Homo sapiens: one gene and its partners. The protein of the gene in region 2 interacts with the protein of the main gene of each other region in a biochemical or structural test. Each region holds a gene or a part of one and is shown on either strand. Other genes may lie near its edges. The genes, in order: ASAP1, SNX9, LRRK1 and DNM2.

Region 1 (7,024 bases), on a different chromosome or scaffold from region 2:
TTAGGACTGTACGAAAAGAATATATCACTGCAAAGTATGTAGATCATAGGTTTTCAAGGAAGACCTGTTCAACTTCATCAGCTAAACTAAATGAATTGCTTGAGGCCATCAAATCCAGGGATTTACTTGCACTAATTCAAGTCTATGCAGAAGGGGTAGAGCTAATGGAACCACTGCTGGAACCTGGGCAGGTAAGGCCTCACTAAAATCATTGGATAAAAAGTAATGTGGAAAATCAGTTTAAAAGGTGACTTATTTTAACATTATACCATATAATGAGATTCTTATACATTGGGTGGCCATGTCTAAATCAAGAGAATATGAGAGTGAAGAGGTGTGCTCCTTATAATTACTTGGGGGCAACTGATATATATGAAGCCTCCCTTGGCAGAGCATATTATTGACTTACTTATACTTTTCTTTCCCTTTTTAGGAGCTTGGGGAGACAGCCCTTCACCTTGCCGTCCGAACTGCAGATCAGACATCTCTCCATTTGGTTGACTTCCTTGTACAAAACTGGTATCGTTTTTGTTTTCTCTGTTGAATTACCTGAATATGCCTTATAAATTAACACAAACCAGTCCTATCAGTGGCCTAGATCGGGAATTGGCAAGCTTTTTCTGTGTCATGCTAGATATAAAAATTATTTTTGGCTTTGCAGGCATGAAGTCTCTCTGTCAGAGCTATTCACTTCTGCCATGGTAGTGTGAAAGCAGCCACTGACAATGTGTAAACAAGCAAGTGTGGCTGTATTCCAATGAAACTTTATTATTTTGTTTATAAAAACAGACAGTGAACCAGATATGGCCTACAGGCTGTAGTTTGCCATCTCTTGGCCTTTATAAATGTAAAATTATGTCTGTATCCAAAAATCTGCTGCACAGATTGGACACATTTGCTAACCGTTAGGAGAGGTTAAAAGAGAGAAGACTTAACAGCACAGGTCAACCATATTTGTGAGTTTTCATTGTTCCTAAATTTAATATAAGACAGCAGCAGTGTGTGTGGCTGGATCAATAGCTCATTCAAGTTTGGGATATACTGATGGAAGTATAAGAGTGAATATAGGAAGTTTGGACTTGCTGGATTCTTTATTCTCTTTATCTGTTCTGTAAGCAACAGATGATGAGGAGGAACTAGAGCTCATCTAAAGAAGAAGATCAAAATAGTGAGGGGATTTGAACCCATAGAGGAAAAATGGTACATAGACACAAGCCAAATTGTATAAAAGTCCAGGTTTCTTCCTCAGAGACAATATAGCATAGTGGCTCAAAACATTGGCTCCAGAGATAGATTACCTGTGTTCAAATATCCCTGCTTCACCATCCCTATCTTGAAAATCTTGAAAGCAAGCACTTCAGCCTCTCTGCGCTTCAGGGTTTTTTATCTGTAAAAGCGGTTATTATTAGTATTTACCCCATCATATAGTTGTAAAGATTCAATGAACTAATACATGTAAATGTTAAGAAACAGTGTCTGTCCCATAGGACCTGGCACTCTAAATAAATACTGCCTGTTATCACTGTATTGCTTATAAATCTAGGTTAGAAACATCATAATTTTCTCTATTATAATAATTAGGTCTCAAATTTGACTCAGTTGTCAGCACAAAAATAAGTGGCTAATCTATAGTTTTAAGTTATAAAGTAAGTCATTTTTTTCTAATCATCATCTAATTTTTCAGTGGGAACCTGGATAAGCAGACGGCCCTGGGAAACACAGTTCTACACTACTGTAGTATGTACAGTAAACCTGAGTGTTTGAAGCTTTTGCTCAGGAGCAAGCCCACTGTGGATATAGGTAAGAGTGTGTCTAGTGTCTTCATGACTGTAGTAAGCGTGTGTTGCATGGTACATTGTAATTTGATTATTGTTCCTTGCCTTCTTAAGGTGTTTCCTAGATAATTATGCAAATTAATTTTTTTCCTATTTCAGTTAACCAGGCTGGAGAAACTGCCCTAGACATAGCAAAGAGACTAAAAGCTACCCAGTGTGAAGATCTGGTAAGCAAAAATGGACGTGGGAGATTTATTAGACATTGGCTGCCTTAAAAGTGTCATTCTGAGAAGCTAGAATTGAATATTAAAAATGCAGATTCATTTTTTTTTAACACTTGCTAAAGAAAATCAGATGAGCAATGTGCTACATTAGAAAAAGTGGTAAAATGATAAATTTGTCATCCACATGTTTTTGGAATGCAGTTAAAGGAGGTGAAAGGCATTACACAAGTATTATTACCAGATCGACTTGTGCATTGAGGTCATGCTTTTTATTTCCCAGACCATTAGACTTTCTCTGCAGCTTAATAGTAAAGAATTATTTGAGAAGCTGCTCCAAAAATTGGGCAAGTAAAGCTCAGAGAGTAGTGGTCTTCAAAATGTTAACACACTGTTCTCCCAGCCCCTCCCCTTCCTGTGCACATTCACCTTTTTTGACCCTACTAGTTCTTGCTTAGCAAGTCAGGGCCTTCACATTAGTGTGATTCTCTTGAGTTTCTGCTAAGTGCCAGGTTCCAGGCCCACCAGTTGGGCCTTTTTATTCTTAAAAGAATCCTTTGAGACAATTATCCCTGCTCCCATTTTATGAATGAGAAAATGGGGCCACAGATTGGACTGGGACCTTAAAAGCCTACGTCTTAAACTTCAAAGACTCGTTTTGCCTTTCAGCCAGGAATTTGCAAGTTTGAGGCCCATTTAATAAGAAGAAAGCTTTTAATTTTGGAGACAAGTCATCAAAATAAAGAAGGCTCTGCCTGCAATTGTTTGCATTTCTTCTTGAGCCTGTCACATAGCAGTGCAGCTTGTCTAAGCAGAGTGTTGCCTATAGTACACCTACAGATGATTCATTGAAAACTAGGAATAAGGTGGGATTTGCTCAGTGTTTGTATAATATTGGGATGTTTCAGCATTTAAATTAAAATGGTGCACATTTGCTGTTCCTTCCAGCTTTCCCAGGCTAAATCTGGAAAGTTCAATCCACACGTCCACGTAGAATATGAGTGGAATCTTCGACAGGAGGAGATAGATGAGAGCGATGATGATCTGGATGACAAAGTGAGTGTAAATTATGTCCTCGAATTCTCAACAACTACCCCAACTTTTCTAGTCTGTGTAGACAAGATCCATTTTTGGTGAGATTGATTGATTGTGGTTTTATGATCCAATGTATCAGGGCCATTTATGTTGTTCAGTCCTTATTGGGCACCATTTAACAGCTATATTAAGGTTGTCCAGAGAAACAGAGCCAACAGGATAGGGAGAGAGACAGAGAAATTTTTTTTAAGGAATTGGCTCACATGATTGAAGGAGCTGTCAAGTTCAAAATGCACAGGGCAGGCCAGCAGGCTGGAAATCCCAGCAGGAGTTAATGTTGCAGTCTTCAGGCTAAAGACAGTCTGGAGGCAGCATTCCTTACCCTTTGGGGGACCTCAGTCTTTTTAAGGCCTTTCTTTGGCTGATTAGGTGAGGCACACCCACATCATGAAGGGTAGTTCCCTTGACTCGAAATCTACTCATTTAAATGGTAATTGCATCTAAAAAATTCCTTTACAGCAACATCTAGACTAGTATTTGACCAAACACCAGGACACTGTAGCCTGTTGACACATAAAATTAACCATGAAGCTAGGCATGGTGGCTCATGCCTATAATCCCAGCGCTTTGGGAGGCCAAGGCAGAACTATCGCTTGAGACCAGGAATTCGAGAGCAACCTAAGCAAAATGGTGAGACCCTGTCTCTACAAAGTAAATGGATCAATCAATAAAACGTGGTGGTGCTATTTGACAAGCTGAGGCAGGAGGATTGCTTGAGCCCAGGAGTTTGAGGCTGCAGTGAGCTATGATTGTACTACTGCACTCTTGACCTGAATGACAGAGCAAGACCCTATATCTTAAAAAAAAAAAAAAAAAAAATTAACCTTCAAAACAAGTAATTAGTAAGTAAATAACAGTTGTTATTTATTGAACATAATCATGCACTGTATAATAACATTTCAGTCCACAACACACTGCATACTCAATGGGGATCAATATAAGATTAAAACGGAGCTGAAAAATAGCCATCACCTAGTGATGCCATAGATGTCATAATACGGTAGTGCAACACATTCCTCAAATGGTTGTGGGATGCTGGTATAAACCAACCTACTGCACTGAGTTGTATAAAAATGTACAGTAATGTCCTAGGCCTTCACTCACACCCAGAGCAGCTTCCAGTCCTTCCAGCTCCATTTATGGAAAGTGTCCTACATAGATGTACCATTTTTTAATCTTATATAACATGTTTTTATTTTACCTCTTCTATGTTTAGATACACAAGTAATTACCATTGTGTTACAGTTGTTTACAATGTTTAGTATAGTAGCATGCTGTACAGGTTTGTAGCCTGGGAGCAATAGGCTATACCATATAGCCTAGGTGTGTAGTAGGCTCTCCCATCTAGGTTTGTGTAAGTATACTCTATGATGTTCGCACAAGAACGAAATCACCTAACACATTTCTCAGAATGTATGCCTGTCATTAAGGAATGATGTTCATTAAATATGGATTAGACAGATTTAAGCACTTACGTTATCTCAGATCATCTTTATTGAAAGTCCATAACTGAGTGCTGTGGCTCACACCTGTAATCCCAGCACTTTGGGAGGGTGAGACGGGTGGATGCCTTGAGCCCAGAAGCTTGAGACCAGCCTGGGCAACATGGCGAAACCCTCTCTCTACAAAAAATACAAAAATTAGCTGGCCGTGGTGGTGTGCGCCTGTGGTCCCAGCTGCCCGGGAGGCAGAGGTGGGAGAATCACCTGAGCCCAGGAACTCAAGGCTGTGATGAGCCAAGATTGTCCCATTGCACTCCAGCCTGGGTGTGGGTGTCTGAGTGAGACCCTGTCTCAGAGGAAAAAAAAAAAAAAGTACATAAGGGACATTGTTATCCCCATTTTACAGAAGAGAAAACTTACAAAGAGAATTTAGCAACTTGTCTAAAGTCTCCCAGCTAGTAAAGACAGTTTGGAGGATTAAACCCAGTTCTCACTGAGTTTTCCTTATAAGCAGTTAACTACCTCTGAAAGTTCATTCATGCATTAATTGATTGCCTATGTATTGGACATTTCCTGTATCACAGGCAGGATGTAAGGAATGGCCAAAGAGGTCCTCAAGCCTTAACAACTTTAAGAGGAAATAAATTATAATACAATGTGATAATCATTATAAGAGTATGGAAAAATTCCTGAGAGCTATTCAGAGGACCAAGCAGCTGCCTCAGTCTGCCTTCTCAAGGACATTGGAGATGGGTTTCTAAGGATAGGTGGAAGCTTGCCAGGGAAAGAAGTGGGGTGGAATGCATCATTCCAGAACACCACGTGCCAAGGGAAGGAGTCATGGTAGAGTCTGGATGTCGGAGGAATGGAGAGAAGCACTGTGTGTGAGATGCATTCACCTGGCTGGGTGGGGAGAGGCAGGCAGCTGCCTTGTAGAGTCAGGCAAACCAGATCAGGATGGCTTTGTGGGCAAGGTTTGGCCTTTGGGTTTTTGTGCAAGCAGTCAGAAGCCCACAGAGGTTTATTGTCTAAAGAGCAAGGTTTCCCACCAGCTCTGGCTGCAGTGTGGAGAATGGACTGGAGGAAGGAAACTGGAGAAGGGGCCATTCTGGAGGCTAGAGCTGCAGTGGGAGCTGGTGAGCACCTGTACTAGGAGGGGCTTCAAGGGATATTTCCAAGGGGAATGCAGGAACCAGGGACTCCAGGTGACACTGAGGTTTCTAACCTGGGCAGTTGAGTGGATCCTAATGCCATCACCACAAGCGCAAATACCAGAGATACCTCATGGGCCATTGGTTTGGAACACAAGTCACTGGGGTTGTATTTACAGATCTGTAAGTAATTATTGTGTAGCGGGCAGTGGGTGTGAATCCGTTTACTTTGCAGGGGGATATAAAATGAGAAAAGAGGCAAAGAAAGAACTTCAACGTTAAAGGGTTGAGCAGGGAACAAAACTTAATGTAGCAAATTAGAAATAGGTGGAAATACTATTCAAATGTTGCTGAAAAAGTCCTGCATTCTGAAGGTGTTTGCTTATTAAAAGTTAAATCTACCTGTGACCTTACTGTGCTTCTGACACTGCTGCTGATCCTAACCAGTGTTTCACTAGTGTGATTATTCATAGTGGTGAACGATATGAAAGTGTGGTATCTAGATCCTTCCCTTGTACTGTGTCAGCATCATGAGGCTCATTGTGGCTGACCTCATAAAGCTCAGAGAGCCACAGGAACCCAGATTCCCACCTGAGCCCGCCCTGCGGAGGCCCTCTGTACACATGAAGGGTGGTCCTTGATTATTATCTCACCTTCTTATTTCATCTGCCAGCCAAGCCCTATCAAGAAAGAGCGCTCACCCAGACCTCAGAGCTTCTGCCACTCCTCCAGCATCTCCCCCCAGGACAAGCTGGCACTGCCAGGATTCAGCACTCCAAGGGACAAACAGCGGCTCTCCTATGGAGCCTTCACCAACCAGATCTTCGTTTCCACAAGCACAGACTCGCCCACATCACCAACCACGGAGGCTCCCCCTCTGCCTCCTAGGAACGCCGGGAAAGGTATGGGCTTTGAGAAGGGCTTGTGACTCCATCCTCGAAGGGCTTGTGACTCCATCCTCAGAGCTGATAGTCTAGCCAGCTTTGAGGTAAGAATTGCAAGGTACATTTGAGTGGCGCGGATCGTGTTGTCAGGAGCAGCTTGAAATAGGGACCATGCCATTTGCCAGGTACCAAGAGCAGGACAGGCAGTGCTGTGGGCTCTCTTTGTGCATTATTTGTGTTAACCTTACAACAATCCTGTGAAGTATGTGCTTTTGTGCCCATTTTACAGAAGAGGAAACTAAGGCTCAATGAGATACACTGACCAGCCCAAGGTCACACCACTGGTAAGAGGTAAAGTTGAGATTCAATCTGAGGTCCACGTGGCTCCAGAACCTGTACTTTTTATAATGTGGAGTGGAGTTTCAGTTCTCTGGAAAGTTACTTTTCTCTACATTA
Region 2 (7,024 bases):
AAAATATTCTGTTGTATAAAAAAAGAGAGAGAGTGCCTGTGTGCACATGCTGCCCTGTACCTAGCCACATGACTTCCAAAACCTGCTAATGCCTGATTTCCATTACGTGCTACTCCTCAAATGGCAGCGGCTTCTGAATATTACAGAGATGGTGTGCTGTTTGCTTTTCTCTTTTGTTGTAGCATAAAACTGTTCATTTTAGCTTAGTGACATTTGTCAAGAATAGCAACCTTTTTGCTTCCAAGGGACTTGAAGGAAGTTAAATTTAGATGCTTTCCTCTCTTCTTATTTTGTGGAGGTATTTCCTGTTCAGTAGCAAATCAGTTATAGAATATATTAGCATTGTTATATTTTAAACTAATGACTAATCATTTCAGCTTTATTCATACTGTTGCATTTTATATTTCACAGGGAGCAATAGAAAAAGTGAAAGAAAGTGACAAACTAGTTGCAACAAGTAAAATCACCCTACAAGACAAACAGAACATGGTGAAGAGAGTCAGCATCATGTCTTACGCGTTGCAAGGTAAGATGAAAGGGTCCTTATGAGGTGCTGGTGGAAGTTTTTTTTTCCCCAGCAAAGTTTCCCTTGATAGAGAGAAATCCAGATGTGAGCAGCAGTTAAGTAAGTGAGACCTTTTAAGCCCCTCGTTTGCAGGATCCCGGTGCTGATGAAAATCTGTAATATTTATTTAATTTTTCACCTGTCCACCTTATCTGGCTATAGATGACAGCTTGATTAAAACTGTACATTTTATTATTTCTGAGAGACATTTAAGATTCCTTTTGTAATCTGTGGTATCATAATGCTCTATTAAATGCCAGAGCCCAGCTTTTAGCAGTCTGTAACCTGCGTGCCTTGGGATCATGGAATGTGAAGGGGTTTGGGTGTGTCATTTTAGGCACAATTTTTTTGTGTCAAGAAAAAAAAAAGATGAATTTCTATAGGTTTGAGTGTTTTTGAGCAGATGAGGGCAGCAAGTGGATTTTTCCTGTTGGCGGATGGGTGGATGGCACTTGGATGGGCAGAGAATGGAGAGCGTGTTCTGTTAGGAACAAAAGCCACAAAATTGTGGTGCTAGATTGTGTCATGGGCATGAAAGAGTAAAACATACTTAGAGGTTATTGGGAAATAAATTTTGATTGTGAAGGAACTTGAAAGCTCTAGACTTGATGCAGGCATTAAGAAGCCATTAAAAGGGAGTAAAAAAAAATCAATCCTCAAGGGAGAAGGATTTGCTGGTTATGGAGGGGAGATTGGAAGATGCAGACACTGTCCAAGAGCCCAGCCAGAAGACCATCTCACTGTTGTAGTCTGAGCTTTGAGGGCCTAAAGATGTGGTACTGGGGAGAAGAGAATGAAGCACATTTGCAGGCTTTTCCAAGGAACAGCTTTCAAGACTGGGGCATTCATGGGAGAAAGAGAAGGATGAGGGAGGTGTCCAGAGCCAGGCCACTACGGCAAAAACGAGGAACCCTGATTGAAGTTTCGGGTTTTGAAGGGTTTGAAATGGGGAGTTTGGTTTTGAACTTGTGTTTGAGGTTATCCAAATTGAGAAATACAAAGCTTTGTATAACTTCAAGTAACTGAATGTAAAATGTAGAACAGTTTGCATGTCATGGGAATCTGTGCAGCCGCTGGCTTTCTCAGCCTGGAGGGTTTGGGAGAAGGCGGCATAGGAGGCATCCGAGGGAGGCAATGAGGTCCTCTGATGACGAAGACTCCTCTAGAGTTGGGGGCAGGGGCAGGGGGGACAGAGAAAGAAGGAATCCATGTATTCAGCAAACATGAAGAAAGTTGTCCCTCAGCATCCAGTCCTCCTGCCCTGTGAGAGGTTGAGTTCTGACAGCGTCGCTGGTGCTCAGGGGCAGCAAGGCTTCCCGTACTGAAGAAGGGTCTCCCGCTGTCCCACACGCTGCCCAGCCTTTCACCAGAAACCTGCTGAAGCAATTGCTGTGCAGGAGGGAGCGGGGCAGGGACCCCAGCTGCCTGCTAGGTCCAGTGCAGACACACCAGAGGCTTTGAACTGCAGTCATCTGTAACAAATATGACCAAGTATTTTCTATTTGATCGATTCTGTTAGAGTAATAGGCTGCATTTGGGTGATTTATCTGTATTGGATTTTATAGTTTTGAATATGCAAGACAGTGAAAGTCATTCATTTACTGGAAAGTAATGTTTGTCATTAGCTTGTTTTGTTTTGTTTGTTTTGTTTGAGACAGTCTCGCTCTGTCACCCAGGCTGGAGTACAGTGGTGCAATCCCGGCTCACTGCAACCTCCATCTCCTGAGTTCAAGCAATTCTCCTGCCTCGGCCTCCCAAGTAGCTGGGATTACAGGCACCTGTTGCCATGCCCGGCTAATTTTTGTATTCTTAGTAGAGATGGGGTTTTGCCATGCTGGCCAGGCTGGTCTTGAACTCCTGACCTCAGGTGATCCACCCACCTCACCTCCCAGAGTGCTGGGATTACAGGTGTGAGCCACTGCGCCCAGCTCAACTTGTTTTTCTAACCTCTTAGTAAAGTGATTTACCAAGAACTGACAACAGCAGCCAACCAGATTAGGTCAGGTTGATGATTAATTGTAACTGAGCAGAGAAACCAGGTGTTGTCATTTGAAAACTTGAGGGAAAACTGATTGATGTTCTGATTTGGGTTGTAGCTGAGATGAATCACTTTCACAGTAACCGGATCTATGATTACAACAGTGTCATCCGCCTGTACCTGGAGCAGCAAGTGCAATTTTACGAAACGGTGAGTGGGCGTCCACGTGCCTTTCGCATGTGCTTGAGGAGAGGGTTCCTGGTAAACCACTTTGACCATGTAAAGTTAATCTGTTTGTATTCTTTAATCCTAAGTAATAAACCAAAGGAGCCTAAATTTTGGACAGGATTTTTTTAATCTCCTAATTCCATCTGCCCTTTGCTTTTTGGATAACACTGGGTTAAAAAAGATTTTCTTCTGAAGCAGGGGTCTTGGATGCTAGTTGCAAGGCCCCAAGAAGTTCCTTATTGTGCAGCTCCTTCCCCCCGTCACAGCCTCTCTGTGCCTCTGTGCACCAGGAACGGTGCTGAATGAGATGAGGTCACCCAGCCGTCCCTGGGACTCCGTTGGCAGCTGGAACAGGAGCCTGGCACCACACAGGAAACCAAAGGCAGCCTTTGCTTTTTGTGAATGAGGTTTTCACAGTGCGCCATGGAAATCGCAGAGAGAAAACCAAAAAAGCGAGATGTGGGATGGTTTTATTCACAAAACAATAACGAAAACTTAAATTTTTCTTACCTCTGCTTAGTAATTTTGTTGTTTACCAGAGTCTATAGAAAACAAAAATCTAGTAGCATGTCTCCCTCAGACACCTGCAGGTAAGGTCTGTAATGTAGAATCCAGCCTCCGCTGGCGGCCTTGCTGCCTACCCAGCTCCCCTCTGGCCATGGGATCTAAGCCATGTTCATGGGGAGTGGTGAGCAAGCCCTCTGCTCAGCCATACTGGTGGCATCTGCGAGCTGGACACTGCTGAAAACGCCTGTCTCCAGCAGCCAGTTCTTAAAGGAGAACTGTGCTTGATGTACCTAATGCATATTTGTGAATTGTGTCTTGGACAGTTGGTTTGGGAGACTAACTTACGGGAGGAACTCACCTAAGCCCTGTCCTCCCTTACAGGACGTGGGCCCTATGCTCTTTAAATGCACACTTTTCCCGTCAGTTGGTGCCATTGTGGATTTGCCTTTCATTGTATATTAGAATATAACAGATTACATTTGTCTGTGTGAGAAAATAATGCAAGGGCAACTCTCAAAATTTTGATAGTGTTGATTTATTGATTTTCAAGTCCAGGTATGGTATAGTGACATTGTAATTCAGAATAGAAAACCATGTATTTCATCACTGTCTTTGCATAAACCTAAGTAGCTGATATAACATTGTTAGGTTTTAGATCTAAGTTTTATGGCAAAGTAACCCTTAAGTTACTAAAATTTGTGTATGTGTTCATGGAGCAGACATATATTGAGTGTTTCTTATATACCAAGCCCTCGTGCTGGATGTTTAGCATCCAGGGATGGATAAGACAGCTGTGCCTTCAAGGAGCAAGAGGCCCTGGCGCAGAGACCACTGCAGCGCCTCGTTAGCTTCACAGGCAGGCTCGTGCTGTCTGCACACTCAGCAGTGACAGCAGGGTGTGGCCAGGGCGACACAACCTTCAGGGGATTCTGGAAGCTCATACTCCTCCAGGAAAGAGGGGGCTCTAGGCAAACATGAAGGCCTGAGCCCCCAGCTCATCTGAGGAAAAGCAGGTGGTCTGGAAGCGCCGCTAGGGCAGAGGTGGGGAGCATGTGTAGACGCCTCCCGGCGGGAAGGGACCACCAGGGCCAGCTCGGGCCCCAGCGCTGCCGGTGTCATTCGGGGTTAAGGTCTGTCCAGCAGCAACGCGGGGCAGGGCTGGTGCCAAAAAGACCAGTTAAAGAATTGGAATTTGTGTCATGTTTAACTTGTTGGAGTTGTGAATAAAGAACACTGTGAGGTCGTAATGGGAGTGATATCTCAACGTTGTTTTGTTTTGCTTTCTTGTCAGATTGCAGAAAAGCTGAGGCAGGCCCTCAGCCGCTTTCCAGTGATGTAGGACAGAACGGGCCTTGAAGAGAATGCCGCGTGCTTTCTCCTGACTTGGGGCAATGCAATTCAAAACTTTTTTTCCCCTATTATTCAGAAAAAAAAGGAAACAAAACCAAAAAGAAAGAGTTGCAAAAAACTGCATTTATTTTATTAGCCACCCTAAATGCGTCAGTTATTTAGGGATGGTCTTTTGTTCATTTCCGCATCCATTATTTAAACCAGTGGAAATTGTCTCTATTTTTGGAAAGTACTTAAAAGTTACCAGAATTTTCAATGGAAAATGAGGGGTTTCTCCCCACTGATATTTTACATAGAGTCATAATTTATATGTCTTATAAATTATAAGTCTTATATAATTTATAAGTCTCCCACAATCTTCCAGTTCTTACCCAGTGTCAGATAATTAATTACTAATTACTTTCTTAAAAACATGAACTATGCCAGAATAAAAAATATCTATGTTTGTATATTTTTATAACTCCTTTCAGTCCTCTGGGGCTCCTGTCATTGAGGGAAGTCGTTACGCCTTTCACTGCCACAGTTACAGCTCAAGTGCTTACACTTCAAGAGGGAGGACGCTGGGGGCCCCTGGGGCTGCTAGTGCCATCGTGGTGTGTGGCAGGTGGGCCATCCCATGTCCCTCCAGGGGGACCCCACAGCCTGGCAGATGAGCAGATACCCCTGGCCACCCATGTCCTCAGCGACATTTCTGATGTGCTGCTCTTATGTGAGGACCAGTGCTTTCTCTCTTTGCACTTCCTTCCTAATCTTGGTTAAGGCATGTTTTATGCCATGAAGAATACATTAGAAGAATTGAGGGACTTTGTAGAGAATTTTGTGGCTTTGGTCCAACGGGTGAGTGGCTGTGCGGAGGCCTGTGTTCGGGAGGGCCTGGGAGAAGGAGGGCACCCAGCACCCCGGCGTCTCTGGCCCTTTCTTATTCTTTGGCTCCTCATCCACCGTGATGAGAAGCGCTGCTGTGGCCACGGCACACTGCTTGGCTTGGGTGGCGGGTTCATGGCCAGTTGGTGTCATCAGCAAAGAGAAAAAGCACAGGTTAGCTCCCCATTAGATGGAAAAGTGTAGGGACTGAGAAGGGCTGCAGCCTCAGCAGTGTACAGAGTCCCCGGCGCTCTGAGGTTGGAGAGAAAGAACAGACCAGCGCCCTTCCCGACTACATCCGAAACTTCACACAGGGTGTTTCTGAGCACCAGCACTTCCAGCGCTTCACTTAACGGCATAAAGCAAAACAGGACCTTGGCACACCGTCAGCTCGAACTCAACACTGGCAGCCACCGTCTCACCCCTGCGGAGGAGCGCTCCCGTCTCCCACAGGTGCCTTACCGCGTTCCCTCCCGCTGCTTTCATTTTTCTGACCTAATAATTACGGGAAATGGAAAGTCTGGGCCAGCATCAATAAAATGACACCAAAAATAAGTAGATGAAATCAAATGAATATGAGAACATCTTGTTCTTCAATATCACGGGTTTTTGTTAATGTTTCATAAGTAATTCTCCCCACTTGATTTTTCTTCTATAAAATCCCATAGAACAATGTTTATGCTATAGCCATTTAATATATGTACAAATTGTAAAGAATATGTATAAATGTTTTACACGAATGTAAGAGCATGTAGAAGCCAACATATAAATAAATTGTTTAAAAAAACTGTACAGTAAATTCTCAAAGCACTTTTTCAAAACACTTTTTGGACTTTGTGTGTGATTTTTGTTGTTGTTGTTAAGTACTTTTTATTCCAGCTGCTGAAAATGGTCCAGGTAATGAATTCTTCCCCAAATCCTATTTCTTCTGACATGAATTCATCATTTCAGTTCCGTAGGTCAGTGTTGCGGTCCGGGAAGCGTATCATAACCACCTGGGAGTTGCCAAGAAGCAGACAGTCTCCCAGTGTCTGACTCTCGGATATTTGGATTTGACTGGTGTGAGGCAAAGTGAAAAAGGGATGGGGGAAATGGAGATGGCACGGGCTCCTCAGAGCGTGGTAGCCGACTGTGAGGAAAAGCAGAGGGAATGTGAAAGAAAATAAGAGAATCCACGGGATTTGATGCCTGGAAGATTCTCCTTCAAGTGGCAACATGGCATATATATCCTTCTCCGGGGAGTCACATGCACCATTTGGTTCTTAGATACGTTGATGTTTTGATTTTTAATGATTTGTATCAACCTGTAGGTACCACAGAAGAGCTGTAGTCATACAATCACATAACTTTTACAAATATAGTGGAAAAAAAGTCAGTATTTGGAGAGGAGAGATGAAGGCGTGGTGGAAGAAAAGGTCAGTCTCGTTGTCAAGCAAGTGACGTCAGTTGCCTCCCACCAGGAGCAGCAGTCCCGGGATGTCAACCCACTGCATGGTTTGTAGGTGTTGGGGTCACCAAGAAAGATGACTCAC
Region 3 (7,367 bases), on a different chromosome or scaffold from region 2:
GTTGGCCATTTCTGTGTTTCCCTTTAAACCAGATCCTGGAGACAGTGAGATACTCAGGGCGTTGTTAACAGGGAGTGGTATTTGAAGTGTCCAGCAGTTGCTTGAAATGCTTTGCCGAATCTGACTCCAGTAAGAATGTGGGAAAACCCCCTGTGTGTTCTGCAAGCAGGGCTCTTGCACCAGCGGTCTCCTCAGGGTGGACCTGCTTACAGAGCAAGCCACGCCTCTTTCCGAGGTGAAGGTGGGACCATTCCTTGGGAAAGGATTCACAGTAAGGTTTTTTGGTTTTTGTTTTTTGTTTTCTTGTTTTTAAAAAAAGGATTTCACAGTGAGAAAGTTTTGGTTAGTGCATACCGTGGAAGGGCGCCAGGGTCTTTGTGGATTGCATGTTGACATTGACCGTGAGATTCGGCTTCAAACCAATACTGCCTTTGGAATATGACAGAATCAATAGCCCAGAGAGCTTAGTCAAAGACGATATCACGGTCTACCTTAACCAAGGCACTTTCTTAAGCAGAAAATATTGTTGAGGTTACCTTTGCTGCTAAAGATCCAATCTTCTAACGCCACAACAGCATAGCAAATCCTAGGATAATTCACCTCCTCATTTGACAAATCAGAGCTGTAATTCGCTTTAACAAATTACGCATTTCTATCACGTTCACTAACAGCTTATGATAAGTCTGTGTAGTCTTCCTTTTCTCCAGTTCTGTTACCCAATTTAGATTAGTAAAGCGTACACAACTGGAAAGACTGCTGTAATAACACAGCCTTGTTATTTTTAAGTCCTATTTTGATATTAATTTCTGATTAGTTAGTAAATAACACCTGGATTCTATGGAGGACCTCGGTCTTCATCCAAGTGGCCTGAGTATTTCACTGGCAGGTTGTGAATTTTTCTTTTCCTCTTTGGGGATCCAAATGATGATGTGCAATTTCATGTTTTAACTTGGGAAACTGAAAGTGTTCCCATATAGCTTCAAAAACAAAAACAAATGTGTTATCCGACGGATACTTTTATGGTTACTAACTAGTACTTTCCTAATTGGGAAAGTAGTGCTTAAGTTTGCAAATTAAGTTGGGGAGGGCAATAATAAAATGAGGGCCCGTAACAGAACCAGTGTGTGTATAACGAAAACCATGTATAAAATGGGCCTATCACCCTTGTCAGAGATATAAATTACCACATTTGCCTTCCCTTCATCAGCTAACACTTATCACTTATACTACCAATAACTTGTTAAATCAGGATTTGGCTTCATACACTGAATTTTCAGTATTTTATCTCAAGTAGATATAGACACTAACCTTGATAGTGATACGTTAGAGGGTTCCTATTCTTCCATTGTACGATAATGTCTTTAATATGAAATGCTACATTATTTATAATTGGTAGAGTTATTGTATCTTTTTATAGTTGTAAGTACACAGAGGTGGTATATTTAAACTTCTGTAATATACTGTATTTAGAAATGGAAATATATATAGTGTTAGGTTTCACTTCTTTTAAGGTTTACCCCTGTGGTGTGGTTTAAAAATCTATAGGCCTGGGAATTCCGATCCTAGCTGCAGATCGCATCCCACAATGCGAGAATGATAAAATAAAATTGGATATTTGAGAAACATTGTGCTTTTTCATTTAAAGACCAAAGTCATTTGAATTCGATGGCAGGCCTTTCTCTTTCTGAGACCTGTACGAAATGGCTGATATTAAAGCAGGATCAATAATGTAAGCATAAAATTACATTTGCTCAGTCAGTCGGGCCCAGTGCTTTGCCTGAGTGTGAAACCCATTTCTGTGGGCTTGGGGGTTGACCAGGCAAGGAGCTGGGCCTCAGAGGTTCCATGTCATAGCTGGCTGAGTTTCAGCTGTTATCTAAGCTGCCTGAGTCTCCTTTTATCATAAAGTAGTGATGGTGTCAGTGTGCGAAATGGTGGGGAGGACTGCATGAGGATTGACGGACAGCATTGTGCCCCTGACGGTGAGCACAAGTGTCTGTTTTTGTCACCTTTTCCTCTAGAGAAATCTAGAGGATCTAGAGAAAGGATCAATTTGGGTTTTACTGACCTCAAGTTTCTAAAGCTTCTAACCAAGAAGCCTCAATCACCCCGTTGTGAGCTGACGCTGCCATTGGCTCAAGATCATTGCTGGTACTGGGGTATGTCCTCCAAGCTCATCCCTTGCATTTGATGTGGAAAGCCCAGATCATTTTGACATGGGTGGCAAAGCACCACCACTTTAACAAAAAAGGGAGGCTGGGATCAGATCTCTCGTAACATATGCACTTATGTTAAGAGAATTTAGACACATTATTTAGAGACATCCCATTTCTCAATCCAAATGTGAGCAGGAAACTGTAGGAGAAGGATATTTTCCCTCATTTGGTGTCCCGGAACATGACTCCCTGAAGGGAGCCATTCTGGGGACAATTGGAGGGTGTGGTATGCGTGTGCACACATGCATTTGTGTGCCTGGTGTGCGTGTGGGGGTTGGCACCTCTCTAGAAGTGGACCCTTTGGGATGTCCTAGCTTCTCCTGCTGGTGGATGAAGCCTTTCTAATGGCTTTGCTCCTTGCTCCTAGGCATGAGCTTGAAGGGGGATAATGAAGGGCGTTTAGGAAGTTGCTCAAGGAAGACTGTCTGAGGAAACTGCGTACTGGGCTGAAGAAAGACAACCGGAAAACACTGAAGGAGCGCTCAGCCACTGCACCTTCAAAAAGGCAGAAAAGTCAGTTCAGGGAGGTGCCTCCCAGCTACCCCACCCACCTCAGGAGGGGTCATTCCAACCTAGGGTGCTGAGAATCTGGGTGGGATTACCAGCAAAAGCTAGAGAACCATGGGTCAGCGACCCTTAGGAAGAAGTGGAAAGGAGTCTTAACTTACCTGCAATAACCTTCCTATGCGAAGTTGTGGCTAACGCATGCCTAATGGCTAGAATTAAATGCTGGGAATATAACGAGCTCAGCACAGGTTATCCGCGTGTCAGATGTTCCTGCTGTCTTCTACAGTGGGGACATTTCCTAGCCTATTCCCAGGCTCCTTTAGAAGGGAAGTGGAGGTGCCCCATCTTCACCTGCCGCGTCCCCTCCAGCGTCTGCCCGGGCCCTGGGCCTGCGCTCCCTCGCGGTGGCGCCAGGTGGCGGGGCTGCGCGCCCTGGAGGAGCTGCACCGCCGTCGCGGGGCTCTCTCAGCACTGAGGACACCACGCCCTGCAAATTGTTGGGAACTTGTCGGTGGCAATCACACTGCTGGCTCCTGCAAACTGGTGTGAGGCCCTCAGGGGTGAGAACAGGATTGCAGAACTGCGCTCACCCTTTTGGAAAGTCGTCCAGTGGCAGAAGTAGCCTCCCAGGAGCAGAGCGAAGCTGCTCGGTGGTCCCCTCTCCAACCAGGGACCCAAGAAGCCGCTCAAGGGAACACGGCCCCGCGGCGTCCGGGAGGTCCTGCAGGAGCCCTGCGGCTGCCCCGGTTCTGTGAAATGGCAGTGAGGGTGGGGGAGATGTGCGCTAAATCCTGGGAACGTGCGAGTCATAACTTTCCAGGAGAGGGGCCCAGGGCGCTGGTCCTGCAGGGCGTGGAACCCTCTGCTCTTCCTGAGCAGGCTTTGTCCCCGGGTCGACACGGGGAGCTCAGCGTGAGGCCCGCCTGCAGCGTGGACGCAGATCTTTTTTATGGTCTGCGTTTCTGTATTAGCCTCAGCAGCCTGGTGACGCCTTTATAAAAGGTCGAAACACGATAAATTGCCAATATTCCACGTTTTATGTATTCCCCCCAAAGCCGACAATTAACAATGACTCACCGAGCAGCAGATTCTTTGCACACATCCATAATTGAATCAGTAAAATCCATGTGTTGGAGGATATGCAAATTGCAGGTCGTTAACGCTTTAGAACGACACATTTCTGTATCGCCCCGTGAAGAGCTCTACGCACATGAATGTTCCCCGTCTGTTTAACTGTTACGGCCGCAGTGTGTGGGCCGCAGGCGCGCTGGGGGCTCATCTGCTGATTTTGCTGCCCCTGGAGCAGAGGGATAGCGAAAGCGGGGCTGAGCGCAGCACGGACCGATCCCATCGCCGCGCTCGCCCCGCGTGGAGGCAGCCGGGTGCCCGAACCTGAAGGAGGACCCGGTGCCGGAAGGGCCCGCGGACCCCGGCGTCTCCCGGGGCATCGAGCGCCATCGCCCGCGTTTTACGGCCAGGGAAACTGAGGCGGCCGCCGAGGGGACGCCTCGCGACGGTTCCTGGGAGAGCTGGCGGCGGCCTTGCTCTGCGCGCTCTTCGCGCCGCCCTCCCCGCCCGCCCGCCTCAGGATTGAGGAAGTGCGTCTGGGCCCGGCCCCGGCGCGGGGGGCAGACGGCGGTGGGACGGCCAGGCCCCGGCCCCGCCAGTGTGTCCGCCCGGCCCCGCGTCCCGGAGCGCCCGCACCCGGCCCCGCCGCCGCCTCAGGTAAGCGCCGCTCCTGCCGGCGCCCCCCGGCGGCCTGGCTGCCTCCCGGCCCCGCCCGGGGAACCCAGAGCCCGCGCCCGGCGCCCGCGGGGAGCCTCGGCCTCTGCCTGCCCGCGGGCCCCTGCGCTCCGGGCGGCCGCGTGGTCGGGCACGGGGGGCCGTTGCGCAGGGGCCGCGGCCCGAGGGGCGCGGAGGGCGTGTGGGGCGACCCCGGTCTCACGTCCCCGCTGCCTCCCGCCGCGCCCGGAGCCCAGCCAGCCTGTGGGAGGGGAGCGCGCGGGGCCCGAGCAGGGAACCCCGAAACCCCGTCCGGGCAGGGTCGGGAAAGCTGGGAAGCGGAGGCAAGAGACACGAGTCGGGAGACACGAGCCGGGGAGCCCATAGGTTTCCTCTGCCTTTGGAGCGAACCCAGTCCCTTAGCGGGGAGCGGGCGGAGTGTGAGCGCGCGGGTGAGCCCGTGCCGGGGTGTCGGCAAGAGACCGCCCGGGAGCCTCTCGCTGGTCCGGGGCTTCCTGGGGTTGCGGGGCGGCCCAGCGAGGCTTCACCCTCCTCGATGTCTGGGTCACGCTTCTTGCCCAGGTGGTCTCTGGCTGGCGCAGATACAACTGCTCTGTCTACCATGGTCTCTGCAAGCTACAGGGGACCTTCCTGGCAGGCAGGGACGCGGGAAGGAAGCCTAGGAAGGCCGGGGTCAGCGAGGAGACGCTGGTGGAGAATCTGAGAACCCCCGTGGCCATCTCAACCTACCCCTTCACAGTATGAGGCCGCGAAGTTTTTCTCCCACGAACACTTCCCCTGCAACAGGTAGAGAAACGGGGGCATATAGCTTTCAGCAAACCTCTCACCGTGTACACTAATGATAGAGTTTGCCAGCCACTCACAGGGTATCAAAATGCCCAGACATTAAAGGGATAGCTAGAACATGCACAATTTTGGAAAATGTTAACATTAAACGCCTTTTATGATTTGATTCTCTTCATCTTTGCCTATGTCCTGAAAGAGAAAATAATATAACAAACTAACCTCACACCTAATTTGTTCCTAAAGGAGGTTTTGCGGTCAGCCAAACCTTTCCCTCTCCCAAAAGTCGATGTCTCTGGCAGTGACCTCGCAGTCAACTCGGATCCTCAGATAAAAAACATTCAGTCTGTTGAATCTATGTCTAAAATGTGTCCTGATCTGTCCCCTTTTTCTTATGCCCCCACCCCCCACCCTGCCCCTTGTCCAGGGTACCAGCATCTCTTTACTGTAGGATTTCAGTTCCCCCTTCCTCCATTCTCTATATAGCAGCGTGCGTCTGTGTGTGTCTGTGTGTTTAAATGGGTAAATCAGACCATATCAGTCCTCTTTATGGAGTCCTTCAGTAGCTTCTCCTTGCAACTGGCACGCAATCCAGGAGACCTCCTTCTCCTCACACCCCCAGCTGATCCAGCCTCTGCTGTCTCGGACCACCAGGCCATTGCCCCAGGCCACACTGGCTGAGCTTGCTGTCCAGCACTGGTCCCCTGCACTGCTGCCTCCTGACTCTTCACACAGCCTCAGAAAGTCTTCCCTGGTCACCCTCTGAAAACCCACGCTCCCTCTCACATCCCTCACTCTGCAGCCTCCCTGCAGTCCCCATTCTGTACTCCTTCTTTATCTGTTTAATTTCTCCTTAATTATCTTGTGGTCTCCACTGGAGCTCTTGGGGTCAGAGACTGATCTGTCTTGCTTATTGCTGTGCCCTCATTCCCATAACTGTACAGGGAGATACCCCGTGCATGGTGGTAGAGTGACTGGATGGGGAATGGACAACCCTAACTTACCTGTGGTTTCAGACTCATGGAGCATTTCTCTCCTCCACCCTTTTTGGGCTCATCTGGGATTGAGAACAACATATTTCTCTGGCCTGCAGCTCCAAGATATTTGGATGCCCCCAAACCCATTAAACACATTTTATAGGCAAAAGCCAATGCTAGTAAGGGATGCAAATAGCACTCAAGAGATTTCTAGAATCATGGGCTAACCATTTTGACCAGGATTTTGTTTCAAAAAGGAACTAGGTGATATGAATGAGCATGTCTAGCATGCTTTGCTTGCAAGGGACTTCTAACTTCTAACTGATATCGACAGTCCTTCCCAAGCCTCCTAAAATATCTGGGCTTCTCTGCTGTCAGAAGCTTTATAGCAATTACTTAGCTGTCTGCTCCCCCACCAGCTTCACAAACTCATGAAGTTCCCTCTTCATAGAAAGAACTCAATAAGACATTTGTAGAATGAATGACAGGTTCTTCTCTTTTCTTTTCTCTAGAGTCTTGCTCTGTCACCCAGGTTGGAGTGCAGTGGTGCAATCTTGGCTCACTGCAACCTCCACCTCCCCCAGTTTAAGTGATTCTCATGCCTCGGCCTCCCAAGTAGCTGGGATTACAGGCGCCCACCAGCATGCCCAGCTAATTTTTGTAATTTTAGTAGAGATGGGTTTTTACCATATTGGCCAGGGTGATCTCGAACTCCTGACCTCAAGTGATCCACTCTCCTCGGCCTCCCAAAGAGCTGGGATTACAAGCGTGAACCACCGCACCCATCTATTTTCTTTTCCATTAAATGTTTAGGTTTATTCATTAATGCAGGTATAAATAGTTGGCAAAAGGAAATTGATGAGGTTTTGAAAAATCATTTAAACCATCATTACTGCTGAAAACCTCTTGATGCCCTCTTTAGGGTGTATAATGAAGACATGTAACTTGTAATCATCACTTGTTGGCACCTCTCTGGACCCAAAAGAAGCAGGAGGAAGCAAAGATCCGTTTGAGGGCAAAGATTGAGCAAAATTTGAATTACCTCATCTTAAAACTTCTACCTTAGAATATAAGCCAAAATAGTAACTAGAATTTTAAAACTGCTCCAGGGGCAGAGTCTTCCACTGGTAAAGTGATTTTC
Region 4 (7,024 bases), on a different chromosome or scaffold from region 2:
TGAGCTGCCTCCCTAGCAGTCTGGACAGCCGTGGCTGGCACTTGGTGCTTCCTGAACAGGGCCAACCTTAGAAAGCAAGTGATAGGGCAGGTGCGGTGGTGCACACCTGTAATCCCAGCACTCTGGGAGGCTCGCTTGAACCCAGGAGTTTAAGACCAGCCTGGGCAACATAGCGAGACCCCATCTCTATTAAAATAATGATAATGATAATAATAAAGAAAGGGAGTAAGGCTTCTGCAGCACCTGGCCCAGGACCTATCCAGCCCCAAGATGTCCTAAAGCGGCCAAGGTTGAAATCCCAGCCCTGCTCCTCTCTGCCTCAGTCTTCCCCTCTGTAAAATGGCATCACAGAGGTAACTCACTCCTAGGCTCGTTTCAAAGATGGAGCCCAGATAAAAGTTCCATTCACTTCGTGCAAGGCGAGGGGCAGTTGTGTTGTGCGTGCCGTCAGCCACATGTCAGCAGTGAACTCAACAGGAGTCCCTGCCCTGGAGAAACTTGAGTCAGTCCAGTGGCAGTCAGCCACCTAGGTCAATAAGCACAGGCAGTCAGGCACCTAGGTCAACAAGCGCAGGATACGTGACGTGTTGTGTGAGGGAAAAGGAGGATGGAGGTGGGGAGGGTGCGGGTAGAGTTAGGGCAGGAGGGAGCCATGCAAGTGTCAGGATCAGGCAGTAGCCCGGTCGTCCGAAGGCCCTGGGGTAGGAACCCAGGTGGGATACTCAGGGAGCATCATGGAGGGCAGCGTGGCTGGGACAGAGTGACGGACGGGGAAGGGCCGGCAGATGGGCTCATATACAGCAGCGACCAGCATTGAGAAGCCCCCGGGGCTGGTGGTGGCGCATGCTACACGCTCTGGCCTGGGGCATCCTGAGTTGTCACGTGGACCGCTCAGGGTGACTCTTTTCCCTCCACCCTCAGGAGAAAGAGAAGAAGTACATGCTGCCTCTGGACAACCTCAAGATCCGTGATGTGGAGAAGGGCTTCATGTCCAACAAGCACGTCTTCGCCATCTTCAACACGGAGCAGAGGTGAGGGGCCCAGGGGCCTGGGGATGGCTCGGGGTGAAGACCAATGGCCTCATTCACACTCCACAACCTTCACTGAGCACTGAGCACCTGGCTGTCAGCAGTCCCTGCCCTTGGGACCCAGCTTTTAGAAAGGGGAGTCACGTGAGAAATAGCAAATGCCAGGGATGCTTCCCGTGCTGGGTCAGAGATGACCTCTCTGGGCAGAGATGAGGATGAAGGCAGGCTCCGAGTCAGTGGGAGCCATGGAGAGTTCTGAGCACAGGGTGACCAGGACCTGGCTCAGGTGCTTGCAGGAGCCCTCTGGTGGCTGAGAGGGAAACAGTATGAGAGGGTGAGAGATGGGGGACGAGGGCAAAGGCCGCTGCCTTGTCCAAGTGGGCGATGATGGGGCCAGAACCCATAGGGAAGGAGGGTGCAGATTCTGGGTAGAAGAGTCAGGCGGAGCCCTGGTGGGCATGGATATGAGAGAGAAAGGCACCAATTGTGACCCTGAGTACGTGGGCCTGAGCTCCTGCACTGCCCAGCTGCTGCCATTGGCCGAGGTGGGGAAGGCAGCGGCAGGTAGGCCTGGAGACAGCCAAGAGCTCCATTTAGGCCATGCCAAGGGAGAGGGTGCATCAGGGAGGCACCTGGGTAGATCGAGGAGTGTGATGTCCAGGAACGAGCTCCAGTCTGGGATGTGAACTGGGCAGTCACCATTGCGTGGATGGTATTTCAAGGAACGAAACCAGATGAGCTCCCAGGAGAGTGAAGCTGGAGAATGGGAGGCCCCAGGAAGCTCACAGTACATCTGTCCCATGAGGCGTAGCTGGAGACTTTAGCAGAGACACTGCTCTCAGGAAGAAACCCAGCTGGCAGGAGGGCTCTTCCCATGCTCACACAATCACGCTCATCCAGGAAGCAGGGCCCACCTGAGTCAGGGATTAGCTGTCAGTAAAGGCCCGGTGGTACCCTGAGACCTGTAGGCAGGCACTGACGTCCTCCCTGCTGGCCCCAGAACCTCCTTGCCTACTGCTTGGCTACACCCACCAACTCCAGCTGAGTCTCCTGGTTCCCTCCTGCTTTGCTCTGGCTGGCCTAAAGCTCGAGACCCATTTGTCCACCAGCTGGCCGTGAAAACCTTCATAGCTCTTCTAGGCTTGCCCCTGGCCATATGACACCTGGCAGCTGTCCCAGGTCCCTGAGCCGTGTGCCTCCTGTACAGGGAGGGTGACAATATTATCTGATATATCTTTTAAGAGCAGGTTCAGGAAACCCAGAGTAGTAGCTGCAAAAACAAGATAAGATGGTTGATAGTTTTTTGTGTAAATTAAGTCCAGACTTTAGTATCCCGGGCAAAGTGGAGCAGCTCCACAGGCATCAGGGTCCAGGCCCTGCATGTTCCTCAGGATTCCACCTGATATGCAGAAGCCGAGCTCTGCGGTGGGACAGGCCTGCCATGAAATCCTGACTTTTTTTTTAAACGGAGTTCCGCTGTTGTTGCCCAGGCTAGAGTGCAATGGTGCGATCTCAGCTCACCGCAACCTCTGCCTCCTGGGTTCAAGCGATTCTCCTGCCTCAGCCTCCCAAGTAGCTGGAATTACAGGCATGCACCACCACGCCTGGCTAATTTTTTATTTTTAGTAGAGACGGGGTTTCTCCATATTGGTCAGGCTGGGCTCGAACTCCCAACCTCAGGTGATCCACCCACCTCGGCCTCCCAAAGTGCTGGGATTACAGGTGTGAGCTACTGCACCTGGCCCAAAACCCCGACTTCTACTTCTTTGTCCAAAATGGCTGCCCAGACTCCAGCCATTGTGATGATGTCCCAGGCAGCAGCAGGAAGGAGAGGAGGAGCTACAAGGGCATGCCTCTCCCCACACAACCTCATCCAGAGGTCGTTCGGGGCAGCCACTTGCTGACCACAAACCCAACTCTCACTTAAAGGCTTTGTGGGCAGCTTGGCTGTCTTAACCACACCTGGATGTGGGACAGGAAAATGTGCGTGGCATGTGGCACGGGGCCTGGCCTGTAGACCACCATCTGCAAGCACTGTTTAGCATCCATTCCATTTATCTCCCAGCTTTGAGACCCTGGTTCTTTTTTCTTTTTCTTTTTCTTTTTTTTTTTTTTTTGAGATGGAGTCTTCCTCTGTCACCCACCCAGGCTGGAGTGCAGTGGCATGATCTCAGCTCATTGTAGCCTCCACCTCCCATGCTCAAGTGATCCTCCCGCCTCGGCCTCCCGAGTAGCTGGGACTACAGGCGCACACCACCATGCCCAGCTAATTTTTGTATTTTCTGTAGAGATGGGGGTGTTGCTGTGTTGCTCAGGCTGGTCTCCAACTCCTGAGCTCAAGCAATCCCCCTGTCTCAGCCTCCCAAAGTGCAGGAATTACAGGTATGAGCCACCATGCCTAAACTTTACAAAAATTTTTTTGTTTTGTTTTGATACATAGTCTCACTCTGTCGCCCAGGCTGGAGACAGTGGCACAATCTTGGCTCACTGCAACTTCCACCTCCCAGGTTTAAGCGATTCTCCTGCCTCAGCCTCCCGAGTAGCTGGGATTACAGGCATGCAGTACCACTCCCAGCTAATTTTTTGTATTTTAGTATTGACGGGGTTTCACCATGTTGGCCAGGCTGGTCTCAAACTCCTGACCTCAGTTGATCCTCCTGCCTCAGCTTCCCAAAGTGTTGGGATTACAGGCGTGAGCCACTGTGCCCAGCCAAAACTTTTTTTATAAAAAACACACAGGCCGGGCACGGGGGCTCACGCCTGTAATCCCAGCACTTTGGGAGGCCGAGGCAGGTAGGTCACGAGGTCAGAAGATCGAGATCATCCTGGCGAACACGGTGAAACCCCGTCTCTACTAAAAATGCAAAAAATTAGCTGGGGTGGTGGCAGGTGCCTGTAGTCCCAGCTACTCGGGAGGCTGAGGCAGGAGAATGGTGTGAACCCGGGAGGCGGAGCTTGCAGTGAGCCAAGATCGCGCCACTGCACTCCAGCCTGGGCGACAGAGCAAGACTCTGTCTCAAAAACAAAACAAAACACATTCGGGCACAGTGGCTCACACCTGTAATCTCAGAACTTTGGGAAGCCGAGGTGGGCGGATCAGCTGAGGTCAGGAGTTCGAGACCAGCCTGACCAACATGGAGAAACCCCATCTCTACTAAAAATACTAAAATTAGCCAGGTGTGGTGGCGCATGCCTGTAATCCCAGCTACTCGGGAGGCTGAGGCAGGAGAATCGCTTGAACCCGAAAGGTGGAGGTTGCGGTGAGCCGAGATTGCGCCATTGCACTCCAGCCTGGACAACAAAAGCGAAACTCCGTCTCAAAAAAAAAAAATAAATAATAATAATAATAATAAAGTTCTGGTGGACAGTGCTGCTCTGGGCTTTCCTGAAAATGCCCCAGTGGGAGCTTCCCAGCCACAGTTGGTGTCGAGGGTCACATGCCCACCTCTGGGGGCCCAGGAAAAGAGAAGAGTCAGCTGATCCAACAGAAACAAAGAAACTCAGACACTTGCCGAGCTTGTGCACAGCGCTCTTCTGTGTAGGCGTCACTCACGGTGACCCCTCAGCATGACCAGGTGAAGCCTGGGTTGGGTTTGGGTTCCTGATCAGTCAGAAAGACCCCTAGAGCCCATTCCTCTCGGCAGTCTGCCAGACCCATGGCAGGGTCAAGCTTGTGCCCCTCCTTCCCCACCCCCCCGCAGAAACGTCTACAAGGACCTGCGGCAGATCGAGCTGGCCTGTGACTCCCAGGAAGACGTGGACAGCTGGAAGGCCTCGTTCCTCCGAGCTGGCGTCTACCCCGAGAAGGACCAGGTGAGGAGCCGTCCTGCGCAGCCAGGCCCAGAGCCCCCACCTGGGAGAGGAAGCAGGGCTGGCTTTCCCCAGGACAGGTCATTTTCAGGCCATGTTAGCCAGGAGTCTCTGAAATCATGTAGCAGATGCCCACTTGAGCAAGCAAAGGAGAAATTGGGGGTACTTTGTCATCAGGGCCCAGAAAGTTCCCTCACGGAAGCCAGTGACCGGGGCACACAGGGGATGGGGTCCCACTTGCTTTGTTCTCTTCTCTTTTCCCCTTCCATCCTGAGGTAGAGTGAACATGGCCACCCTTGGCCCCAATATTAAAATGCCTTGCCGGGCACGGTGGGTGGTTCGCCCCTGTAATCCCAGCACTTTGGGAGGCTGAGGTGGGCAGATCATTTGAGCTCAGGGGTTCGAAACCAGCCTGGCCAACATGGTGAAACCCCGTCTCTACTAAAACTACAAAAATTAGCCAGGCATGGTGGTACGTGCCTGTAATCCCAGTTACTCAGGAGGCTTAGGCAGGAGATCGCTTAAACCCGGGAGGTAGAGGTTGCAGTGAGCTGAGATCACGCCATTGCACTCCAGCCTGGGCGACAGAGCAAGACTCCATCTCAAAAATAAAATAAAATGTCCCAAGGTTGGGTGTGGTGGCTTACACCTGCAATCCCAACACTTTGGGAGGCAATGTGGGCAGATCCTTTGGGCCCAGGAGTTCGAAAACAGCCTGGGCAATGTTGCAAAACCCTTCTCTCCAAAAAATACAAACATACCCAGGCATGGTGGCGCACCCCTGTAATCCCATCTACTCCAGGGCGCTGAGGTGGGAGGATCACTTGAGCTCTCCCTGGGAGGTTGAGGCTGCGGTGAACTGTGTTTGTGCCACTGCACTGCAGCCTGGGTGACATAGCAAGACTGTGTCAAAAAAAAACAAAACAAAAAAACAACGTTCCAATGCCCAGGTGAGGGGATCCACCCCAGCATCAGCCAGGGTCACCCCATTGTTTGGGCAGCTCTGGCCCAGGGCAAGCAGGCCTATCTGGTGCCAGTGGGGCTGTCAGGGGCCAGCCTGAGGTCAGTTATTGGTGGGACAATAGGGCAGATGGTTTCCAGAGAACCAGGACTTGGCCCAGGCCACAGTCACCCCTCAGCACCTCCCCTCCCGCTTGCAGGCAGAAAACGAGGATGGGGCCCAGGAGAACACCTTCTCCATGGACCCCCAACTGGAGCGGCAGGTGGAGACCATTCGCAACCTGGTGGACTCATACGTGGCCATCATCAACAAGTCCATCCGCGACCTCATGCCAAAGACCATCATGCACCTCATGATCAACAATGTGAGTGGAGAACTAAAAATGAGAAGGAGGTAGCTGGGTGCGGTGGCTCACGCCTGTAATCCCAGCACTTTGGGAGGCCAAGGCGGGCGGATCACTTGAGGTCAGGAGTTCAAGACCAGCCTGGCCAAAACGGTGAAACCCCATCTCTACTAAAAATACAAAAATTAGGCTGGGCGCGGTGGCTCACACCTGTAATCCCAGCACTTTGCGAGGCCAAGGCGGGCGGATCACGAGCTAAGGAGTTCGAGACTAGACTGACCAACATGGTGAAACCCCATCTCTACTAAATATACAAAAATTAGCCGGGCACGGTAGCTCACGCCTGTAATCCCAGCTACTCAGGAGGCTGAGGCAGGGGAATCGCTTGAACCCAAGAGGCAGAGGTTGTGGTAAGCCTAGAGTGCACCACTGCACTCCAGCCTGGGCGACAGAGTGAGACTCCGTCTCAAGAAAAGAGAGAGAGAGAGAGAGAAAAATACAAAAAGTAGCCGGGCATGGTGGCGGGTGCCTGTAATCCAGCTACCCGGGAAGCTGAGGCAGGACAATTACTTGAACCTGGGAGATGGAGATGGCAGTGAGCCAAGATCGTGCCACTGCACTCCAGCCTGGTTGACAGAGCGAGACTCCATCTCAAAAAAAAAAAAAAAAAAAAATGAGAAGGAGGCCAGGCACCCTAGGCCATACCTGTTTGTAGTCTTAGCACTTTGGGAGGCTGAGGCAGGAGGATCACTTGAGCCCAGGAGGTTGAGGCTGCAGTGAGCTATGATCATGCCACTGCACTCCAGCCTGGGCGACAGAGCAAGACCTTGTGTCCAACAACAGCAACAACAAATTTGAATGAATCACCACCCTTTGAACACC

The links.
Region 1: the proteins of SNX9 (region 2) and ASAP1 form a complex in vitro, tested with the Homo sapiens proteins (one study listed by IntAct).
Region 3: the proteins of SNX9 (region 2) and LRRK1 form a complex in vitro, tested with the Homo sapiens proteins (2 studies listed by BioGRID and IntAct, with this or other methods).
Region 4: the proteins of SNX9 (region 2) and DNM2 form a complex in vitro, tested with the Homo sapiens proteins (2 studies listed by BioGRID and IntAct, with this or other methods).

Annotation. Positions count from the first base shown.
Region 1 is NC_000008.11:130,111,656-130,118,679, reverse strand, and holds part of ASAP1 (arf-GAP with SH3 domain, ANK repeat and PH domain-containing protein 1), read left to right. Parts: intron 1-4; coding exon 5-191; intron 192-433; coding exon 434-519; intron 520-1,684; coding exon 1,685-1,800; intron 1,801-1,934; coding exon 1,935-2,002; intron 2,003-2,665; coding exon of another isoform or gene 2,666-2,848; exon of another isoform or gene 2,849-2,866; intron 2,867-2,944; coding exon 2,945-3,052; intron 3,053-6,357; coding exon 6,358-6,586; intron 6,587-7,024. UniProt on the Homo sapiens protein: Possesses phosphatidylinositol 4,5-bisphosphate-dependent GTPase-activating protein activity for ARF1 (ADP ribosylation factor 1) and ARF5 and a lesser activity towards ARF6.
Region 2 is NC_000006.12:157,938,222-157,945,245, forward strand, and holds the end of SNX9 (sorting nexin-9), read left to right. Parts: intron 1-411; coding exon 412-526; intron 527-2,661; coding exon 2,662-2,753; intron 2,754-4,569; coding exon 4,570-4,617; 3' UTR 4,618-6,856; downstream 6,857-7,024. UniProt on the Homo sapiens protein: Involved in endocytosis and intracellular vesicle trafficking, both during interphase and at the end of mitosis. Required for efficient progress through mitosis and cytokinesis. Required for normal formation of the cleavage furrow at the end of mitosis.
Region 3 is NC_000015.10:100,915,004-100,922,370, forward strand, and holds the start of LRRK1 (leucine-rich repeat serine/threonine-protein kinase 1), read left to right. Parts: upstream 1-4,353; 5' UTR 4,354-4,448; intron 4,449-7,367.
Region 4 is NC_000019.10:10,819,059-10,826,082, forward strand, and holds part of DNM2 (dynamin-2), read left to right. Parts: intron 1-921; coding exon 922-1,031; intron 1,032-4,729; coding exon 4,730-4,841; intron 4,842-5,998; coding exon 5,999-6,163; intron 6,164-7,024. UniProt on the Homo sapiens protein: Catalyzes the hydrolysis of GTP and utilizes this energy to mediate vesicle scission at plasma membrane during endocytosis and filament remodeling at many actin structures during organization of the actin cytoskeleton.